Regions from separate parts of the Homo sapiens genome. Here region 1 is linked to region 2. Evidence: fine-mapped expression QTL. A gene starts in region 2. The other region holds a variant in brackets. All regions are shown on one strand. Distances are between the middles of the regions.

Region 1 (2,902 bases), 64 kb after region 2:
TTGTCCACTGGTTGGCCATGGTGCAGCTGTGTGCACATTCTAACACACTGACTCAAAGAGTTTGGATCCCATGTGTTGCAAATAGTTCAGTCTAGCAGGAGCTGTGGACAACAGTGCAGACAGATGTGCTCATTGGTTGGCACATCCGAAATAAGCACTTTATGATGCTAGAAATGAAAGTGCCCTTTAGTTCCGAGGAGGAAATAGAAGGCACTCAGTCAGCTCTGATCAAGCCATTCTTGGATTCATGGGCAGCAATTGCAGGGCCAGGAAGGAGCTGAAGTGAATCTTCCTTATCCCTCTGCCTCGGGTGTCAGAACCTGTTTACTGGAACTGGAAGATATTGCCTACATTGCCTGAGACAGGCCTTCCCTCCTCTTGCTTCTGATGTTGCAGAGTAGAAGTCAGGAACTTTTCAGAGAAGGAAACTGAATCCAGAAAGGCTGATGTTTCTCAAGGCCACAGAGCTGGCCGGTAGCAGAGCTGGGGACTTGAGGTGAACTTGAGTTGGCTCCACTGTCCCAGGCTGGCTCCATGAGTCTGCCATGACGCCTGTGGGACACATGCTGTCTTTGAGACATTGGAGATCCCAGTTAGCTTAGTTCATCTCCACCAATGCTCACATCATGTACTTTATAGGGAGCTCCCCCGACCCCACGCAGCAGCTTGGCCACACAGCTCAGAATAAGAACGCACCCTTACACACAGCTCCTGTGTTTTGCGATACATGTGCTGTGAGCACAGGCTTATGTGAAATCTGGTCATAAAACTACAAACACACCCTTGCTGTGGTGGGCCCAGTCATTTTGTCCACCCACAGCACAGGGGTTGCCAGCTCTGTCTCACAGTTGGTACCTCTAGAAGAAAGCAACTTCTGAGACTTCTGGCCGGGCATGGTGGTTCACACCTGTAATCCCAACATTTTGGGAGGCCAAGGCGGGCGGATCACCTGAGGTCAGGAGTTTTGAGACCAGCCTGGCCAACGTGGTGAAGCCCCATCTCTACCCCCAACAACAACAACAGAAATCCGGGCATCGTGGCATGCACCTGTAGTCCCAGCTACTGGGGAGGCTGAGGTGGGAGGATTGCTTGAACCCAGGAGGTGGAGGTTGCAGTGAGGGGAGGTTGCAATGAGCTGAGATTGCGCCACTGCACTCCAGCCTGGGTGACAGAGTGAGACCTTGTAAGAAAGAAAAAGAGAGAGAGAGAGGAAAGAAAGAAAGAAAGAAAGAAAGAGAAAGCAAGCAAGCAAGCAACTTCTGAGATTCAATGGTAACATTGAGAGTTGCCTCATAGAGGATTGAGAACAAGTGGGGAGGAGGGCAGCTATTAGTAGATCCCTAGTTGTGAGGGATTCAGATGGCTGGTTGAAGGTAATGCCATCTTTTTTCCATAGTAAACCTAGGCCAGCAGCTGTAAGGAAGGGTACTCTTTTGCAGGGCAAAGTCTTCACAGCCCCAGCTAGCCCAGGCTGCTGTTAGCTGATATTTTCCTTTTGGATCCTGTGAAGCAGTTACAGGCAGGATGTGGCTGACTGTTCTTCCAGATGGGGAGTCGTGGCACCACGGGGTCGGGGGGTGAATGGAGAGGGAAAGAAGGCTGTGTCGGAGCCCACAGAAGCTGCTGGGACAGCCGGGCTTGTTGCCCTGAGACAGGCCTTCCCTCCTCCTGCTTCTGATGTTGCAAATGTAGAAGTCAGGAACATCCTTGGGGTGGGATGGGGGCTTCGGACTCTACAGTCCACAGGGAAGTAGCAGAGGGAACAAGGAAAGGAGTTTCCAGTTCATTTATAGCACATCCTTGAC[G/A]TAGAGGAAGGGGAAGGAGTTTGATTAACACCCTAAGCTAAAAATGGGAATTTTTTTTTTTGAGACAGAGTCTCACTCTGTTGCCCAGGCTGGAGTGCAGTGGTGCAATCCGGCTCACTGCAAGCTCCGCCTTCTGGGTTCAAGCAATTCTCCTGCCTCAGCCTCCAGAGTAGCTGGGACTACAGGCATCTGCCACCATGCCCGGCTAGTTTTTTGTATTTTTAGTAGAGATGGGGTTTCACTGTTACCCAGGATGGTCTCGATCTCCTGACCTCGTGATCTGCCCGCCTCGGCCTCCCAAAGTGCTGGGATTACAGATGTGAGCCACCACACCTGGCCAAAAATGGGAAAATTTTTTAAGAAAGGATTATAAAGGTTAGGAGATTTCTTTCAGCCACTGAGAACACAACTGGTTTTCAGTCCCCTTTGTAATTGGGGACAGGAGTGAAATGGACAAATGAACCTCACAGATAATCCCCAATGCTTACTCTCATCCATGAGTTTCAACCTCTCCCCTCCACAAATCTATTCCAGGTCCTGATGAGCTGACTGAAGCATAGGGACATTGCAGGCCAGACCTGTCCTTTGACACAGGTGCGAGGCACAGTAAGGAGGCCAGGGGTGCAGAGGGCCACGCGGAGGCCTGGAACTGATGGAGGCACACGGTTGCAAAGACTCCCCAGAACGGCAGAGCTGGACAGGTTAACCCAATCCAGTTGGTCCTTTATGGAAAGTGAAACCAAAGTTCCCAGAGGTTAGAGCCATCTGGTTAGTTAGCAAAACCAGGCCCAGAAGCTGGCTCACTTCTGGTCTATGGCTCTCTGCACCATATCCCAGTCTCTGGCTTGTGTGTGGGGCATGCTACTCACCCTCAACTGATGTCTCCCAGGGCTCTGCAATGCCCCAGGCACTGGGATGAGGCTTCCAGATTCATCTAATACACATAAATGTTGCTCTTCCTGTCGTGTAGACAAGGACACTGAGGCTCAGAGAGGCTCCGCAGGCTAGTAAATGACAATTTCATATGTCATATTTCAGCCTTAACCTGAGTCCCAGGTAACACAGCCAGTCAGATCAAGAGTTAGAGTTCAAATCCA
Region 2 (2,902 bases):
ATGAACTGCTGCCCAGAATGGAGTTATAGCCCTGCACTATTAAAATGTCTTTGGTTCAAGCAGAGAAAGATGCAGAAACTGATCCTGCCATTTAGGCTTTGTTATTGTTTTAGATCCAATAACTGTTTGGTTTTGTTTTTCAACATGGCATTGGTATATCTGGTTCCCCAACAGGACCTCGCATGTAGGACATCGGAGTGGGTTCACTCGGGAAGATGGACTTCCATTCTACCTGAGCTATGTTCCCACATGCGGTCACAATCCTGGCCCAACCGTGAAAGGCGGTCTGGCCGGAATAAACCTGACCAAAAAGATCAGTGAAATGTGTGGGACATCATAAAGTGCTGTGGGGGTAGGGGTGGAGGAAAGGAATGAGTAGAGAAAAAAGGAGCATGAATTTAAAATGGGAAAACCCTCTCATACTCCATTTGATTCATTTAAGGAGGGGAAAACCACTCAAGGACTCTCTCCAGAACCCAAAGCTAATCACTTTTTTATTGCAGCAGATTACCAAAGAGCCTAGGTAACCCACCTACCACGGCCTCCCGCCGAAAAACCAAAAATCCCATTTCTTCCCAAGTGTGCGCCCAGGAAAGGAAGGAAGACTGTGCATTTAGAGTGGAGGGCGGTACACAGGGCAAAGCAAGTTAGTGCCTCCTTCCCAGATCCCCTGCTTCCCGAGCCAGCCTGACCTGGCTAACCGCAAAGTGCAGGGAGAATGGCACAGGGACCGGGAGGTCAAACTTGGGGTCGCTTCTCACCCGAGTCCACCCGATAACGAGATGATGGGGCGGCGGGTGGGGACACCTGTCAAAGGACGGGGCCGGGGCCGGGGCCGGGGCCGCAGCGGGCGGGCTGGCTGGCGGCACTGCGGCGGCGGGGACCGAGGCGCGCCGGCTCGGGCGTTCGCAGGTCGCGGGGCAGAGCCGGCACCGACTCCTGGACTTGCCGGGGAGCGTGCGCCCGCGGAGGGCTCGGGCGGGCGGCCCCGCGCCCGGGACGCTATGGGAGGGGGCCGCAGCCGAGCAGGGCCCCGCAGCCGGGCGGACCCAGCCGCCCCAGCCGCGCTGCAGCCCCCGCCGTCCCCGGTCTCCGCCTGCGGGCTGCGCACGGGGCCGGGCCGGACGCCCCCTGGCTGCGCGACGGGCCCAGGCAGGGGAGGGGGCGCCGCGCCTACCTGCTCTGGTGCGGCGGGGCCGCTGTCGCCTCGAGGGGCTGTGACCTGCTGCGGTGGCGGCGGCGGCAGCAGTAGCGGCGGGTAGGGCGCTTCCTTCAGGAAGGGGTGGGATCTGCTCACCCGCCCGCCCGGCCCCCTCCTGCCGCGCCGGGGCCCGCCCCCGACTTATTCTGGGGTCCCCGCTGCTAGGCCTTCGGGGAGAGTTGATCCCCTGGGTCTCGGGCTTCTGCCACCCCCCCGGGGCCCCTAATAGTCACCCGGGGCAGGAGCCGGGTGTGGGCGGGCGAGCCGCTTCCTTCCGAAGCCTTTGTGGACGCGTTTGCCTGGCGCTCCTCATCCAACAAAAGGAAGGACAGAATCTTGGATCCTCCGCCTGGTGGTTATTTATTCCTGACCTGTTGTAACCTTCTGCCTGGCTCTCTTTCGTCCGCACACCTAGGGTTTTTGCACAAAGCAGCTAAAATTCATTTTCATGCCCATTGACTGAATGTAGTTCTCCTCCACTCAGCGCTGTCCCGCGGTTTTTGGTTTTTTTTTTTCCATCCTATTGAACAAACACAGAGCCAACTTCGGACCCTGGCAATGAACAGCAGACACCAAGGCCGACCTCCCAGCGCCAGCTTGCAGCTTTCCTCCCTGGGTCTCGTCTGAGTCCGTCATAAACTGTGTTCATCAGCGTTTTGACAGCTTCCCCCATCCCGGACCCCCAACCTACCATGGGACCCCATGGCACCATGTCAGTGACCTCTAGCAGCAGCATGGATCAATGCCATTTTTATCTTAGGCTCATCATGAGCCTGGGTTCCAAACACAACCTCTCTGGCCTCCAACAGGTGGCTCTCTATCAACCGGCCTTTGTCAGTCTGCCCTCTATTCTTTTGGGGGCTTCCGTAGCACACCTGTCTCCTTTAAACTGCTGTCTCTACACAAGCAGGCATTCCCTTTTTTTCTTTTTCTTTTTCTTTTTCTTTTTCTTTTCTTTTCTTTTCTTTCTTTTTTTTTTTTTTTTTGAGACGGAGTCTTGCTCTGTCGCTCAGGCTGGAGTGCAGTGCCGCAATGTCGGCTCACTGTAACCTCTGCCTCTCGGGTTCAAGCGATTCTCTCGCCTCAGCCTCCTGAGTAGCTGGGATTACAGGCGCCCGCCACCATGCCCGATTAATTTTTGTATTTTCAGTAGAGGCGGGGTTTCACCACGTTGGCCAGGCTGGTCTCAAAACTCCTGGCCTCAAGTGATCCGCCTGCCTCAGCCTCCCAAACTGCTGGGATTACAGGCGTGAACCACCGCGCCCGGCCCAACCAGGTGTTTCTAAGAATCTTCTCCAATTCAGCATATTCAAATTCTGCAATTAACGTTCGGTTCCAGAACTCTCCCTTCCCCACAATTCTTGTGATTATTGTCTACTATGTGTATATTGATTCTTTTTTTTTTTCTGTATGTTGATTTCTTGTTACTGTTTTCTCCTGGCTACTAGACTGTAAGCTTCCTGAGACCAGGGATCTTGCCTTCTCTTGTTTTCCTTATTTTAATGAGTGGGACTGTTATCCATTCAATTAAAATAGCAAAAGCAAAAACTGAATCTTAGTCTAGACTCCCTTGAAAGTATATGCTCAATTTTGTGGGAATTAGCTTATGTGTACTTTTCTGAGGAGAGTAACTACACATTAATCAGACCCTCAAAGTGGTCTGACTCCCCCAAAGGTAAGATTGCTTGAGGCCCATCCATG

Which allele goes with the higher level. Positions count from the first base shown, and alleles are read on the strand shown. Sizes are in standard deviations (SD) of each study's normalised expression.
As copies of A replace G in region 1, the expression in thyroid of the gene that starts at base 1,260 in region 2 goes down (moderate effect, 0.53 SD a copy in GTEx).

The links. PIP is the estimated chance that this variant, and not a neighbour inherited with it, causes the effect.
Region 1: its variant is fine-mapped to the expression of TMEM150C in thyroid (GTEx, PIP 0.98).

What each region holds. Positions count from the first base shown.
Region 1 is chr4:82,624,904-82,627,805 of GRCh38, forward strand. No RefSeq gene overlaps it. Among named protein-coding and RNA genes, the nearest start is that of LINC00575, 4.9 kb to the left of the region's middle. The variant G/A (reference allele first, on the strand shown) is at 1,806.
Region 2 is chr4:82,560,729-82,563,630 of GRCh38, forward strand. It overlaps TMEM150C (transmembrane protein 150C), which reads right to left and starts at 1,260. Exons shown (of 8, transcript NM_001080506.3): 1 at 1,178-1,260. RefSeq lists an enhancer at 986-1,485.